Linked DNA regions of Homo sapiens. The protein of the gene in region 4 interacts with the protein of the main gene of each other region in a pairwise test. Each region holds a gene or a part of one and is shown on either strand. Other genes may lie near its edges.

Region 1 (4,104 bases), on a different chromosome or scaffold from region 4:
CTCGATTTCCTGGGCTCAAGCCATCCTCCTGCCTAGATCCCTGAGCAGCTGGGACTACAGGCACGCACCACCACGCCCGCCTAATTTTGTACTTTTTGTAGAGGCGGGGTTTTGCCGTGTTCCCCTGGCTGGTCTCAAACTCCTGAGCTCAAGCAATCCTTCTGACTCGCCTTCCTAAAGTGCTGGGATTACAGATGTGAGCCACCGTGCCTGGTCATATTTGTTTTTGTCTACATCATAAGGGATGTTGAATCTTGGAAAATTTTAAGGAAGGAAGTGAAATCAGGGGTTGATGACTTGTGGAAAAATAATTGATCTTTCATTTTTTCAAGCATATTATCTAAAGGGTGTTTAGAAATTGGAAGGAGTAAGATGATCAGATCAAGAGGTAGTTGAATACCTTTCTCTAAGAAGAACAGAGAAAGGACTTAGGCTAGTTAGGAGAAGGTAATGAGAGAAATAAGATGATCTAGTTTACTGTGTTGGCATTTTTTAGTAAAAAGTATATCTTGAACCTGACCCATTAGACGGTGGCTTTTATATTTTGACTATTTCTAACTTTTACACCAAAGGCCACAAACTCAAATGACTATAGAGTACATACAGGTAATGTAAGTGAATGGCAGTCAAGACTGGGGTATAGTGAAGAATATATGCATCATGTAAGAAGAACGGCTGATTGTTTTCATGTGAGAATGCAGGCCTAAGATTGCTAGATCTGAGTCTTCAGGAAAAGCCAAAAGTTCAGAGGTTTATATGATGTCTCATATTGGAACTAATTCCACTTAAGGAAAAAAAAAACCCTACTACTGGGGAACTAATAAAACATAGCAAATTAATTGCATTTGGCCAATGAGCTTCCAATTTTCATCTGCTCTATACGATTAATGTAGAAACACAATTTCTCCCTTCTTTTTATTGTGCTTACCATAAAGAATGTAAGACTAATTAGCCTTTTTCCTCCCCTTAGGATGGTGCGTCCAAGGTTAACCATTTATGTTTGTCAGGAATCACTGCAGTTGAGGGAGCAGCAACAACAGCAGCAGCAACAGCAGCAGAAGCATGAGGATGGAGACTCAAATGGTACTTTCTTCGGTAGGTTGTTCTGGACACACTAGGACAGATATGAAGAAAGGTGAAGAGATAACTTATGGGCATGTGTGATGGGAAACTATCAAACAGCAGATTTAGTATTTGCTAGAAGTAACAATAATCACTAGCATTTATTAAGTTCCTAATACATGGCAGGTGCCATTCTTTTTTTTTTTTTTTGAGACAGAGTCTCACTCAGTTACCCAGGCTGAAGTACAGTGGCACAATCATGACTCATTGCAGCCTTGACCACCTGGGCTCAAGTGATTCTCTCCCCTCAGCCTACCGAGTAGCTAGAACTAAAGCTACTCATTTGCCTAATTGTTTTATTTATTGTAGAGATGGGATCTCCCTATGTTGCCCAGGCTGGTCTTGAACTCCTGGGCTCAAGCGATCTCCCTGCCTCAGCCTCCCAAATTGCTGGGACTATAGGTGTAAACCACTACACCCAGCCAGGTACTATTCTTAACACTTTTTATATGCTTTAATATTTACAACTAATATCTCCTCTTTGCGGAGGATTTTACTGTTATCTCCGGTATTTATGCAAGAAAAATCAGGCCTAGGAATGTTAAATAACTTGCCCTAGGTCACACAGCTGCAAGTGGTTGAGCCAGGATTTGAACTTAGGCAGTGTGATTTCTGAGTCCTTCAGAAAAGTGGGCATTCCTAGTGATCAAGTTACCTGTAAGAGTGGACAAACTTTGTACTGACTGCTGTTGCTCTCTCCCTTTTGCAGTTTACCATGCTATCTATCTAGAAGAACTAACAGCTGTTGAATTGACAGAAAAAATTGCTCAGCTTTTCAGCATTTCCCCTTGCCAGATCAGCCAGATTTACAAGCAGGGGCCAACAGGAATTCATGTGCTCATCAGTGATGAGGTAGATTTTTCAGTACAGTTGAATTACCAGATGATGATTAATTTGTCAGCGCATGGAGCAAGAGCAGTTCTCCTGGGGCAGAGTGTTCTGTTTTCTAGATCAGAGGGTTTCATACTTTTTTGCTTGCTTTCCTCCTAATTTTTTTTTTTTTTGAAACAGTCTCTCTCTGTTGCCCAGGCCGGAGTGCAGTGGCCCAATCTCAGGTCACTGCGACCTCCTCCTCCTGGATTCAAGTGATTCTCCTGTCTCAGCTTCCCGAATAGTGGGAATTACAGGCGTGCGCCACCACGCCTGGCTAATTTTTGTATTTTTAGTAGAGATGGGGTTTTGCCATGTTGGCCAGGTTGGTCTCAAACTCCTGGCCTCAAGTGATCCACCCGCCTCGGCCTCCCAAAGTGGTGGGATTCCAGATGTGAGCCACTGCGCCTGGTCCTAAAATATTTTAAAAACCACATATTCCCATGCACATTTTTAGGTTGACTTAAAATTTTTTGTTAAAGTTTAAATAGTTGTAAAAGATGTCATTTCTGGGCATATATAATGACATTTTTAAGTGAAATGGTTACATCATTATTCTAATTGCATCCCATGTAACCTTAATACAAAAATGATTTAATACCACCACCATCCATTAAAAAAAAATACATGATTGTGCTTTTCTTTAACAGTTAGAATTCTTATACTATTCCTCTGTTTCCTTGAACTCTTATTTTCATTTACTTCCCCCGGTGAATTTTATCTTACTGTAACTTTTTTTTTTTGAGACAGAGTCTCACTCTGTCGCCCAGGCTGTTGTGCGGTGGTGTGATCTCGGCTCACTGCAACCCCGCCTCCTAGGTTCAAGCAATTCTCCTGCCTCAGCCTCCCAAGTAGCTGGTATTACAGGCACCCACCACCATGCCTGGCTAATTTTTGTATTTTTAGTAGAGGCTGGGTTTCACCATGTGGCCAGTCTGGTCTCGAACTCCTGGCCTCAAGTGATCAACCCGCCTCAGCCTCCCGAAGTGCTGGGATTACAGATGTGAACCACCACGCCTGGCCATCTTACCATAACATATTTTTATGCACAAACATCTTTTATTGATTATCCTACTATATTTGTTTGAAATAAAGTTTTTAAATAAAAATTTAAAAATTATTATAATGGAATTATCATAATTATACAATTGATTAAAATAATGTAAATATGCTACATGTTTTAATAAGTAATTATTAAAGATTAAGAAGGCTGCCCAGGCGCAATGGCTCATGCCTGTAAACCCAGCACTTTGGGAGGCTGAGACGGGTGGATCACAAGGTCAGAAGTTCAAGACCATCGTGTCCAAGATGGTGAAACCCCATCTCTACTAAAAATACAAAAATTAGCTGGGCATGATGGCAGGTGCCTATAATCCCAGCTACTTGGGAGGCTGAGGCAGAGAACTGCTTGAACCCGAGAGGCAGAGGTTGCGGTGAGCCAAGATTGCGCCACCGCACTCCAGCCTAGGCGACAGAGCGAGACTTCATCCAAAAAAAGAAAAAAAGAAGGCCAGGCACAGTGGCTCACACCTGTAATCCCAGCACTTTGGGAGGCCGAGGCAAGCAGATCACCTGAGGTCAGGAGTTTGACCAACATAGAGAAACCCTGTCTCTACTAAAATACAAAATTAGCCGGGTGTGGTGGCACGTGCCTATAATCCCACCTACTCAGGAGGCTGAGGCAGGAGAATCCCTTGAACCCAGGAGGCGGAGGTTGCGTGAGCCGAGATGGGGGCATTGCGCTCCAGCCTGGGCAACAAGAGCAAAACTCTGTCTCAGAAAAAAAAAAAAAAATTAAGAAAAAATTATTACAGGTATATCTATGAATGAGTTCGATGAAATTGTTTCGTTCCCTACCTGTACCCTTGCACATAATTATTTCCTTTGTAGCTGAATACTGCCTATTGATTGCTAGAATGACACAGGATTTCAGCATCAATTCCATTCTGTTTTTTTCCTCTAGATATAAATGCTGAGGGACTTGATTCCCATAAATTGATAGGAATGGATGGAATTTTGTAATGACAATGTCATTAGATTATACTTCAGAATTATATACCAGAAATTACATAGTGATATTACCAAAAAATCATTTTGAATCCTCTGTCTTAC
Region 2 (4,114 bases), on a different chromosome or scaffold from region 4:
CCAGTTAAAAGTTAATTGCTCCTGGTGATTTGTCCCAGTTCCACCATGAATTTTATGCAATTTATTGCAAAGATTAAATGGATATCCTTTAAGTAACAAGCTAACAAGGTCAGCTTATCTCACTGGGAGGTAGAGAAGTGACTGTAATTCCTATTCCGCCAAAAATGAGAAGACCCCAGTATTTTTGCAATTTATTTGTGACCTCAAGAATAAAATGGGCTCATGCAGATTAAGTAACTTGCACCAAGTTACACAGCTCGTGAGCAGTAGAAGAGGTCTCCAGACTCCCTCTGTTGGGATCCAGATCCCATGCACTTAGCCATCTGTCTTCCCTGGATTGAGAAATATCAACTGTAGAACAAGTGTCCACAGGACATGGGAGCATATGAGGTTAATTGGGCATGAGCTAGGGCATGAACAAGCTTTTTGTCTTCAGTGCACACTGACAGATACTATTCCTGGTAGTGGTGATGGTGGAAGTGATCCATCCACATACTAATTGTTTCCCTTAATGGCTAATAGTCATTAGGTATGAATTATTTATACTTAGGTGTTAGCATTTTGTACCTGGTAATTAGGTACAAAAATGGGAGAGCCACATTAAACAATGTACCAAAGGTCTCTTTCTGGAACTTTCTATGAGCAATAGGTTGGAAATCTAAGTATCAGTGCACAGAAATCAATGCATTATGGCAGTAGAAAAAGCCAGAAAATGGGAATTGGGAAAGAAGGATTCTATCTTGGCACCACCACTCTAATATTTGGCAGATGACTTCCCCTTTCTGGACCTCATTCCCCATCTGTCCAGTGATAGAGTTGAACTAAATAATTTTCTTTTAAGGCCTTTCCAGTTCTTACATTTTGCGATTCATTACATCAAAAATAGTATGTTAGCATTGCTTGTAACCCTCTTCAAGTCTTTTTATGGTTACTGCTAATGGGAATCATTAAATCGTTAACAACTGGAAGCAACAATAATCATTTAGTGTCTCTAATATAAGTATCTACCAATCCTTGAATAGTTTTTTTTCTTTTTTTTTGTGAATGTATGAATTACTAAAGGGAGTTGCAGATAGCAAGATGGGGGTGGTTTTTATGGCTGTTTGTTGTTTCCATCCTGGCAAATGGAACATAGTTTCTAAACTAGGATCTTTATGTGTGCTGGACCACGTGTATAATGTCAGAAAAGGTTTAATTTAAAATAATGAGATGAAAATTACCTTGTAGAAGAATCGTTTGAAATGTTTAGACTTGAGCAAACGGGTGTACAGGTGTGTATCACTACGATTTTCACAAAGTGACCATGGAAGTTGTCTGGTTCTGACCCTCATGGGATCACACCTCTGTTTGTCAGGCAGAGGCACAGAAGGTCAGGCTGGAAAAGGGCTGTGGTCTTTGCAGAGATAGAGCAGGCAGGGTTAGACTTCCCCATAGTCAGACCCTGCCTGCTCTTCATTTTGCAGGTGTCCTGGGGGCATCAGAAGCCTCCTCATCTCACTTTTGTGTGCCCTTCTCCCCCAGTGCCTTAGGAGAGAAATTAACCCGCACCTGCCCTTCATGTTTTACAGGCCAGCGCAGGACATCTCATTGCCATTGTCAGCCAGGAACTCGCAGCCTCACAGCCCTACTTCTTCTCTGACCTCTGGGGGGTCCTTGCCCTTGCTACAATCTCCACCATCCACTAGATTGTCTCCTGCCCGACACCCCTTGGTCCCAAACCAGGGAGACCATTCAGCTCACCTGCCTAGGCCGCAGCAGCATTTCCTTCCTAATCAGGCTCACCAGGGGGATCATTACCGTCTCTCCCAACCTGGCCTGAGTCAGCAGCAGCAGCAACAGCAGCAGCAGCACCATCATCACCATCACCACCAACAACAGCAGCAGCAGCAGCCACAGCAGCAGCCAGGAGAAGCCTATTCAGCTATGCCTCGGGCTCAGCCATCCTCTGCTTCTTATCAGCCAGTGCCAGCAGACCCTTTTGCCATTGTTTCCAGAGCCCAGCAGATGGTTGAGATCCTCTCAGACGAGAACCGGAACTTGAGGCAAGAGTTGGAAGGATGCTATGAGAAGGTGGCAAGACTGCAGAAGGTGAGGCTTCCGTTTTGGGATATTAGGGTCTCTAAGTCTTTATTTGTGAGACTTGTTTAATATCCACATTAAAGTCTCCAGTTGTGAATCCCAGCATTACTTGTGGCAGGTCTTCAGGATTTTTATATCTGAAGGTTAGATATGAGTCAAACTTTGGAAAAAGCCTTCTACCTGTCTACCTAGGAGAAGTAACGTCTTACATTTACACAAGGAGAAAAAAATTTATGCAGTTTTTCCAGACGCTATAGCCCTAAAGAAAACGTGATTAATTCTTTTAGAATTCCAAAAGGCAGTGATACTTCTTGATAAGAATACTGGTGATGCCTTTATAGGTAAAGGATCTGACGGCACCTTAAGGCTCATTGTCTTGGTCACATTTTCCCAAATATGAATTTGAATCTTAAATATAAAAATAAATGTAGTTCCTAGAAAAATCTCACCAGCTAAAGTTTGAGCAGTCCTGCCTTGTTCTGGAAAAGGCTCAGAATACTTTTTCCTAGTGGGAGTTCTCATAGTAACTCTCTTTCAACAATCCCTCCACCCCACCCTTTGATTTGGTCCCTCCCTGCAGCTCAAATTCAACATCTGCTCTCTTTCTCTGTTGTATGTGGGGGGCAGGAGGGGCTTAACACCACAGCTGGGTGACAGGTGACAGCCCTAGGCTGAGGAAATAGAAAAAGGAGTGTATCTCCAGTTCACATTCTTCTCTGCCCACCCCCATTGGGACTTTACCTCTGGAGTACCCCAAGCGAGGAACCTTAGCTCTTGGCTTCCAGGGGCTGCTGGTGAATAGGGTTATGCCTTTGGCCGCTTCTTTGCAGCTTTTGTCATTGTGGAGCTATTGTGGTTTGGTCTCCCTACAATGTGAACTGTTCAGAGAGGTGAGGGTGAAGGTGGGGGAGGGACAGGAGGATGCCTTGTATTGTCCAGCAACTCTGTCCTTAGGAAACACCAGGAGTGAAAATTTCAGAGGCCTGAATGAAGCTGAGTATTTGTAAACAGACACCAAATCTGGGGGCCTCAAGGAGACAGGGGCTTATTATCAGCAGATGATTTTTTTTCTTTCTTTCTTTTTTTTTTTTTTTGAGACGGAGTCTCGCTCTTGTTACCTAGCCTGCAGTGCAATGGCACGATCTCCACTCACTGCAACTTCCGCCTCCTGGGTTCAAGCAGTTCTCCTGCCTCAGCCTCCTGAGTAGCTGGGATTACAGGCATGTGTCACCACGCCTGGCTAATTTTGTATTTTTAGTAGAGACGGGGTTTCTCCATGTTGGCCAGGCTGGTCTCGAACTCCCGACCTCAGGTGATCCGCCCGCCTTGGTCTCCCAAAGTGCTGGGATTATAGGCGTGAGCCACTGCGCCTGGCAAACAGAGGATTTTTATATAGGAAAATGGCTTCCCTGTCCCTTAGTTTTCCTAAATCTGGATGAGGGTTGTTGGAGTGCTCTGAGAATTGTTTCTTCCCGGCTTTTCCCTGATTTTGTATTTTCACCCGCAAATTTTAACTATATCCCTATCCCCATCGCTTTGGTGAAATAAATTAATTATATCCATACACTAGAAACCCAGTCTGGCTGATTAGGCTAACAGTTGACACCCCCTCTCCAAACTCTCTCTTCATGGTGATCCCAGCCCATCTTTGATACAATCACTGAAGGATGAACCCAGCTCTAATACGGGCCCTTTTTGCCAGAGGATCCATGGTGATTTTTTGTGTGTGTGGGAGTGGGTTCAGCCAGTGACAGGGAAGAGGGACAGAGAATAGGATTGCTGTTGTTTGTTCCCCAAGATGGGAAAAGATGCCTCAAATAAGTGTAACTGGAACAGCTTGAATGTTGGGAAAGTAGAGGCTGACCCAGTGTCGAGGTAGAGTAGAGGGGAAGGTGGACCAGGAGAGGAAAAGGAAAGTGGGGAAAATTAAGGTAGATCCCAGGTAGTGCTGGAGGAAATGAAAAGGCCTGAGGCTCATGAGGGGAATAAGTAGACAGAGTAAGTCTGGAAAACCCACTGCCACCCTCCTCTCTGC
Region 3 (3,293 bases), on a different chromosome or scaffold from region 4:
TAGAGATGAGGTTTCACTATGTTGGCCAGGTTGGTCTCTAACTCCTGAGCCTCGGCCTCCCAAAGTGTTGTGAGCCCACCGCACCTGGCCTGGTGTTTTGTTTTTGTTTTTGAGACGGAGTTTCGCTCTTGTTGCCCAGGCTGGAGTGTGCAGTGGTACAATCTCGGCTCACTGCAACCTCCGCCTCTCGGGTTCAAGTGATTCTTCTGCCTGGGCCTCCCGAGTAGCTGGGATTAGAGGCGCCCACCACAATGCCAGGCTAATTTTTTGTATTTTTAGTAGAGATGGGGGTTTCACCATGTTGGCCAGGCTGGTCTCGAACTCCTGATCTCAGGTGACCCGCCTGCCTCGGCCTCCCAAAGTGCTGGGATTACAGGCGTTAGCCACTGTGCCCGGCCAGTGATTTAGTTCTGATTAAGTCCTGCCCCCGGCCCTCCGGACATGTTTCTCATCCCTAAGCCCTCCGCCCAGCCCTCACGTTCTGCCCCGCCCTCTCGTGCTCTGTCCCGCCCTGGCACTCCGCTCTGCCCCTTGCGGTCTATCCCATCCCCTGTGCTCTGTCCACCCCCTACATTCTGCCCCACCCCTGGTGCTCTCTACCCCTTACCCTGTGGTGTGTCTGGTCCTTCTTGCTCTGCCCCGCCACTCATGGTCGCCCCACTCCAGTGCTGTACCCGGCCCCTTTTGCTCTGTCCCAGCCCCTGTGCTGTGCCCTGTCCCTCTTGCTCTGCTCTTCCCCCTGCACAGTGCTCTGCCCCTCTTGCTCTGCCCCGCCCTCCTGTGCTGTGCCCCGCCCCTCCTGCCCTGCCCTACTCACTGCACTGTGCCCAGCCCCTCCTGCTCTGCCCCGCTCCCGCACCGTGACCGCTCCTCTTGCTCTGCCCTTCCCCCTGCACTGTGCCCCGCCCCTCTTGCTCTGCCCCACCCCCTGTGCTCGGCTTGGGCCCCCAACATTCTGCCGGTCCCCTGGTACTCTACTCCTCCCTCCCGACCTCACGCTTCGCAGCTCCCCCAGTGCTCTGCCTGGCCCCTCTAACTGTCCCTCCACCCAGTGCCTTCAATTGCTCAACCTGGGATCCCCGCTCAGTTGACCTTGCTCCCGCAGGCTAGAGCAGGCTGACCTCATTCTGGCCATGCTGGATGCTTCTGACCTGGCCTCTCCCTCCAGTTGCAACTTCCTGGCCACCGTCGTAGCCTCTGTGGGAGCCCAGAGCCCCAGTGACAGCAGCCAGCGCCTCCTCCTGGTGCTGAACAAGTCGGACCTGCTGTCCCCGGAGGGCCCAGGTCCCGGTCCTGACCTGCCCCCGCACCTGCTGCTGTCCTGTCTGACGGGAGAGGGGCTGGACGGCCTCCTGGAGGCGCTGAGGAAGGAGCTAGCTGCAGTGTGAGCCCCCTCCCACTCCCAGCCTCCCCTGACCCACAGTTTAAGTGTGGGTCCCTCAACTTCAATTTCTGAACCTACAAAATGGGTACAACCATTTCCCCTTCAAGGGATGGTTGTAAAAGGTCGGGAGAGACCATGTCTCTTGTCTCTTCCAGGTGTGGGGACCCGTCCACAGATCCCCCGCTGCTGACCCGAGCAAGGCACCAGCACCACCTCCAGGGTTGCCTGGATGCCCTCGGCCACTACAAGCAGTCAAAAGACCTGGCCCTGGCGGCAGAGGCGCTGCGGGTGGCCCGGGGTCACCTGACCCGGCTCACAGGTGGAGGGGGTACCGAGGAGATCCTGGACATCATCTTCCAGGACTTCTGTGTGGGCAAGTGACGGGATCCAGGGAAGTCGCACCCAAGCTGCGTGGAGACCCAGGAGCCTCGGGGGATCTGGAAACAGTTTAGGCCAATTGGGATTCTCATTCGCCTGGGAAAGAACTTGATTCTCAAATAGTGAAGCAACACAGCTGAGAGGTAGTGAGATCCCTGCAGGGACTCCCTGGAGATTCAGGCCCTGGAATGGGGCTGAATGGAGGTCCCGTTCGACCCTTGATGCTGGGGCATCCGGGTTGGGATGGAGATAGGAGGATCTCAGTATATTTGTTTCGTAGTTTTTTATTTATTTTGCAAATACCAAAGGAATGTAAAAAAAACTCAGGTGATCTAGAAGTGTTTATTTTCTTCCCTTCCCTTCCCTTCCCTTTCCTTTTCCCTTTCCCTTTCCCCTTCCCCTTCCCCTTCCCCTTCCCCTACCCTTCCCTCCTCTGTCTATTGCCCAGGCTGGAGTGCAGTGGTGCGACCTTGGCTCACTGCAACCTCCATCTCCGGGGCTCAAGCGCTTCTCCTGCCTCAGCCTCCTGAGTAGCTGGGATTACAGGCATGTGCCAGCATGCCCGGCTAATTTTTTTCTTTTTTTGAGACAGAGTCTCGCTCTGTCACCCAGGCTGGAGTTCAGTGGTGCGACCTCGGCTTACTGCAACCTCCACCTCCCGGGTTCAAGTGATTCTCCTGCCTCAGCCTCTTGAGTAGCTGGGACTACAGGCGCACACCACCACGCCAGGCTAATTTTTGTATTTTTAGTAGAGACAAGGTTTCACCATGTTGACCAGGCTGGTCTTGAACTCCTTGACCTCAGGTAATCTGCCTACCTTGGCCTCCCAAAGTGCTGGGATCACAGGCGTGAGCTATCACACCTGGCCCCAGAAGTGTTTCAACATGGAAATTTTCCTTAGCCCTTCTGTGGTTGTCATGGCTTAATGTGTGTCTTTCCAGAACTTTGAATGTTTGCATACTTGTGGATGTACCTTTCAAATATGTTTGTCTTGTGTATCATATATAAATGGTATTGTGTTCATTGCTCTACAAATTGTCATTTCTTTTTAAAAAAAAAACAGAATTATGGAGATGGGGGGTCTCACTATGTTGCCCAGGCTGGTCTTGAGCTCTTGGACTCAAGCCATCCTGCTGTCTTGGCCTCCCAAAGTGCTGGGATTACAGGTGTGAGCCACGGTGCCTGGCCTCATTCCTTTTTTAGTCTTTAGTCTTCTTTTTTTTTTTTTTTTTTTTTGATGGGGTTTCACTGTGTTAGCCAGGCTGGTCTTGATCTCCTGACCTTGTGATCTGCCCACCTGTGGCCTCCCAAAGTGTGTGTGTGTGTGTGTGTGTGTGTGTGTGTGTGTGTGTGTGTGTGACAGAGTCTTGCTCTGTTGCCCAGACTGAAGTGCAGTGGTGTGATCTCAGCTCACTGCAGCCTCTGCCTCCTGAGCTCAAGCCATTCTCGTGCCTCAGCCTCCCGAGCAGCTGGGATCATAGGTGTACCCTACCACACCTGGCTAACTTTTGTATTTTTAGTAGAGATGGGT
Region 4 (4,569 bases):
TCCAACCCTGCCACTTACTGAGCTCTGTGAACTCAGAGAAGTCATTCAACCCCATTGAGCCTCTGCTTCCTTTCTTGAACACCAGGGATTATAACCCCATCTACCTCTCAGCAACCTTGCAAGTATCGCGATGACACATGTGAAAAGTACCTTGTAAGGTGTAAAGTGTGAAAAAGCACCTCTGTTTGAGTGCCCATGCTGTGCCAGACACTTCACATACATCACCTCATTGATGAAGCCTCACAAAAGCCTTGCAAGGCACATTATCATCCCCGTTTTACTGAGTAGGAAACTGAGTGAGAGGGATTACAGAAATTGTCCAGGTCACCCCGCTGGTAAGTGGAGGATCCAAGTGTCAACACCAGGTCCGGCACCAGCTTACTTTCTTTTCTCTATGTGTGAAATCCAATGTTATCCAGTCTCAGAATCCAGTGTTCGCTGCGGCTCTTGTCATCCCTTCCTGTGGCCTTGTTCCCTCCGATTGTTCAAATTGCTTCTCCTTTCCAGGACCCTCTTCCATATTTCCCAGCCCCTGAACTGCCTCAATGGCCCCCGGTGCTTAAGGCCGATTACTTCTGGCCATGCCAAAGTAGGATTTGCAGTGCCAAGGAGGGACTGCTCAGCACAGCCCAGACTCCCATTCCCTCTGCCAGTGCCCATTCTCCCCTGCACCATCTGTCCCCTGCATGGTCAGGGAAGGGGACCCTCTGGACTTTTCGCACAGAAGATCTAAACCACTCACCACTGGCCGATCCACGGAGATGGTATTTTCAACTTCCCTGTGAGGAATACAGACATGTGGGGTCTCAGTGTCACCAGAAGCAAGCAGGAGGCCCGTGGACGGTTTGCTCTGGTGCACGGCTTCCTGGCAGCCAAGCCAGAACCAGCCTCTAGAGAACCCCTGGAACACCCCAACCCCAGGAACCAGCCCCATGTCAGCACCATCCCCGACAGCCAAGCCCAGGCACGCAGGTTCTTGTTAGTATTGCTCAGAGCCCCCCAAAGGCATGACCCAGCCACCTACCCATGGACCTGGTGCATCTTCCAAGGACAGAGATCAGAGTGGCAGGGGCTATGAGCTCATCTGTGGTGGCCAGGGACAGGATGTGGCTTTCCTGGCCATGCTAACCTAAAATTTCAAGCATCCCCAACACCTCCTATCCCTCTTCCCTACTTTATTTTTGCTCCATATCACCTCTCCAAATCTAACATGCTACATATGTTTTTCCTATCCATTATTGTCTCATGTTAGAATATTAAGCTCCATGAAGGCAGGGATTTCTTTCTGTTTACTTCACTACTCTATCCTTAGTGCCTAGGACAGTGCCTGGAACATAGTAGGTGCTCAATAAATATCACAGAATGGATGAATGAATGAATGGGGGTAATGTGGCCAGTGGCTCAGGAGCAGCAGAAGGACCCTGGAGGAGACGTGTCTAGCTGCCTCATGCCTTCAACCTCTGGAGTGGGCCATGTGAGCTTTTAGAAACACGTGGGAAAGCTGGGCCAGCACTCACTCAGAGAGGTTCCTCTTTTCAGAGAAGACCCGGAGGATGAATTCCCCCTCCTGGTGGGGCTCGTAGGTGGAGGGCACGATGACGTACTCGCTGGGAGGCAGGCGGAAGCGCTGGGACACCTCCCGCATGTTGATGTAGGTTTTGCTCCTGGCCTTGGAGGCGTTGTACAGGAAGAAGTCCTTCTGCAGGTGCTGCTTGTTCCCGTGCATCTGAGAGATGGGGAGAGCCCAGGGCACATGAGCCCCTCGGGAGGAACATCCTGTCCTGCCACAGCCACCTCCAAGGGTCCCTTCCCAACTCCCTGGTCACCCATGTCACAGTTTCAACCTCCCTACTTCCGACTCCCAAGGCTTAAATAGCCTCCCTACCTCACTTCCTCTTCCTTTTCTGTTGTGATTCAGAGTGAATGGCAAATGTGTCATCCCCACACTCAGGGACACTTACCAGAACAGCTGCTCCTCAGCTCCGAAGCCCCTCAGGCTGGAAGGACCCCCAAGGAGGCCTAGAGGACTTGGCTGGGTTCTGAGGGAAGTGATTCCTCCATCCCAAGCGGGCAGCCACCCTCAGAACGCGTCTGTGTGACTGTGTGTGTGGCTGTAAGCGTGGAGGAGGGTGAGTGTGCAAAGGCATGTGTGTGACGTGCAGTGTCTGGTGCGAGGGAGAAAGTGCACATCCTGGGGGTGGTAGTCATGGGTCATGCAATGCCCTGAGGCACCTGCTCTGCAGTGGAAATAACACAGGCAAGGCCCTCTCCTATCACAGTCCTGCCCACAAACCCCACCAGGAAGCTTCTCGACGAGCCACAGACAGACTCGGGGCCCCCTGGGTAGTGCTGCACACAACTGCTGGCCGCTGCTGCTGCTATACCTCTTTGGGAACCTTGAGAAGAAACAGAAAGGAAGATGCTTCAGATGTGAATGAGGATGAGGAGCCTGCGGAAGGCAATGCCAGCAACTGCAGCCCGCATGCGGAAGCCTGACCCCCAGGCACCTGTTCTGCCAGGCCCGCTCCACTGCCTCTCTAATGCCCCCCCTGGTATTTTTTGCTTGTTACAAACACAAGTGGTCCTGATACCAGGAGCTCTGTGGGTCACTGGGTATTGAGGAAGCCAGAGGGCCCCTCTAGAAGCCCCTGGAAGCGTCCTCCCTGGGAAAGTATGTTTCCTGGGCTGGAGCCAATCAGGACTGCACACCTCGTAGATGGCGAAGCCAATGGTGAAGAGACTGGCCCCTAGCTTCCGGTCCTTCCGCCGGTTCTTCTGCATCAGGGCCACCAGGAAGCTGCAAATCACCTCCGAGTCATCAGGGTCATCGTCCTCCTCCAGGAGCTTCAGACGGTACTGAGGGTTGGTCCAGAAAGTATCTGCACCCCCAGAAAGGAAGCACGCATTCACAGCTGCCTCTCAGAGGGCAGGAAGGGGATGAGACAGAGGGAGCCATTTATTTCTATTCCCTACATCTAGGTGCTTAGGAAATATCAACAGAAAACACGATTCAGGCATTTCTCTAATGATTTGGGGGGGGGGGGGGCGCTACCTTTATTCAGATGGAGCTGTACTGATTGTATGTGTGGCTTTTCCTTCCTCTCTGGGCTTTCATTCTCAGTCTTTGCTGATGGTTTTGTTTTCCTTACCTGCCCCTTAAACGCTGTTGGTGACTAGAATCTGGTCCTGGGCCTCTTCTCCTCTCACCTCACCCTTCCTGCCTCCCTAGGCAATCTTTCTTACTTCTGCTTTTTAACTGCCCCCTACACGCGCATGATGCCTGAGCCATATATCCCAGCCTCAATCTCTCTCACTTTTTTTTTTTTGAGACGGAGTCTGGCTCTGTTGCCCAGGCTAGAGTGCAGTGGCGCGATCTCGGCTCACTGCAGCCTCCGCCTCCTGGGTTCAAGCGATTCTTCTGACTGAGCCTCCCAAGTAGCTGGGATTACAGGCACCCACCATCATCCCCGGTTAATTTTTGTATCTTTAGTAGAGATGGGTTTTCACCATGTTAGCCAAGCTGGTCTCGAACTCCTGACCACAAGTGATCCGCCTGCCTCAGCCTCCCAAAGTGCTGGGATTACAGGCATAAGCCACCACGTCTGGCCTCTTCTTTCCTTTATTCCTCAAATATTTTTTGAGTTCTTATCATATCACCAAGTGCCATCTAATATGCGCATCCGATGCTCTATTACAAATCTTCACTGGGACACTCTACAGGAACCTCAAACTTTCCATGTCCCAAGCTAAATTCCTTTCCCTAGAACCCCACAATTAACTCCACCAAAAACAAACAACACGCTGATATTTTTCTCTTGTGTGTCTTTTTTTTTTGAGGCAGGGTCTCACTCTGTCACCCAGGCAGGAGTGCAGTGGCATGATCACAGTTTATTGTAGCCTCAACCTCCCGAGCTCAAGCAATCCTCCCACCTCATTTTTTTTTTTATTTTTTGTAACGATGAGGTGTCACTATGTTGCCTGTGCTGGTCTTGAACTCCTGGGCTCAAGTGATCCTCCTGGCTCTGCCTCCCAAAGTGCTGGGATTATAGGCATGAGCCACCCACCCGATCTTCTTGTGTGTCTTATGTTGCAATGTTGTCAGGTCCCCAACTGGGAATCTTGACATCATTCTTCTTCCTTCCCTACATCACCCAATATGCTCTCCCTAAATCTGCTGTCTCCCCTCCATCTCTGCTGCTACTGACTTGGTCTAGGTTTTCATCATCTCTGACTTGAACTATTGCAGCAGCTGCTAACTTGGTTCTCCAATAGTGCCCTTACTGTTACTGACACAGTACTCACAGTCCCTGACTTAGGATGGTTCGGCTACAATTTTTTAACTTTACAATGTGAAAGAGATGCACATTCAGTAGAAACTGGATTTCGAGTACCCGTACAACCATTCTGTTTTTCACTTTTAGTACAGTATTAAGTAAGTTACATGAGATATTCAACACTTTCTTGTAAAATAGGCTTTGAGTTAGATGATTTTGCCCAACTTTAGGCTAAGGTCAGTGTTCCGAGCATGTTTAAGGTAGGCCAGGCTAAGCTATGATGTTTGGTGGGTTA

What was found.
Region 1: the proteins of CAPN3 (region 4) and TFCP2 interact in binary tests that used the Homo sapiens proteins (3 or more experiments, as listed by UniProt).
Region 2: the proteins of CAPN3 (region 4) and AMOT interact in a two-hybrid assay, tested with the Homo sapiens proteins (one large-scale study listed by BioGRID and IntAct).
Region 3: the proteins of CAPN3 (region 4) and GTPBP3 interact in binary tests that used the Homo sapiens proteins (3 or more experiments, as listed by UniProt).

Annotation. Positions count from the first base shown.
Region 1 is NC_000012.12:51,096,646-51,100,749, reverse strand, and holds part of TFCP2 (alpha-globin transcription factor CP2), read left to right. Parts: intron 1-970; coding exon 971-1,095; intron 1,096-1,831; coding exon 1,832-1,974; intron 1,975-4,104.
Region 2 is NC_000023.11:112,813,332-112,817,445, reverse strand, and holds part of AMOT (angiomotin), read left to right. Parts: intron 1-1,568; coding exon 1,569-2,088; intron 2,089-4,114.
Region 3 is NC_000019.10:17,339,939-17,343,231, forward strand, and holds the end of GTPBP3 (5-taurinomethyluridine-[tRNA] synthase subunit GTPB3, mitochondrial), read left to right. Parts: intron 1-1,105; coding exon 1,106-1,384; intron 1,385-1,539; coding exon 1,540-1,765; 3' UTR 1,766-2,793; downstream 2,794-3,293. UniProt on the Homo sapiens protein: GTPase component of the GTPBP3-MTO1 complex that catalyzes the 5-taurinomethyluridine (taum(5)U) modification at the 34th wobble position (U34) of mitochondrial tRNAs (mt-tRNAs), which plays a role in mt-tRNA decoding and mitochondrial translation.
Region 4 is NC_000015.10:42,399,951-42,404,519, reverse strand, and holds part of CAPN3 (calpain-3), read right to left. Parts: intron 2,880-4,569; coding exon 2,710-2,879; intron 2,397-2,709; coding exon 2,385-2,396; intron 2,154-2,384; exon of another isoform or gene 1,962-2,153; intron 1,727-1,961; coding exon 1,518-1,726; intron 780-1,517; coding exon 743-779; intron 1-742. UniProt on the Homo sapiens protein: Calcium-regulated non-lysosomal thiol-protease. Proteolytically cleaves CTBP1 at 'His-409'. Mediates, with UTP25, the proteasome-independent degradation of p53/TP53.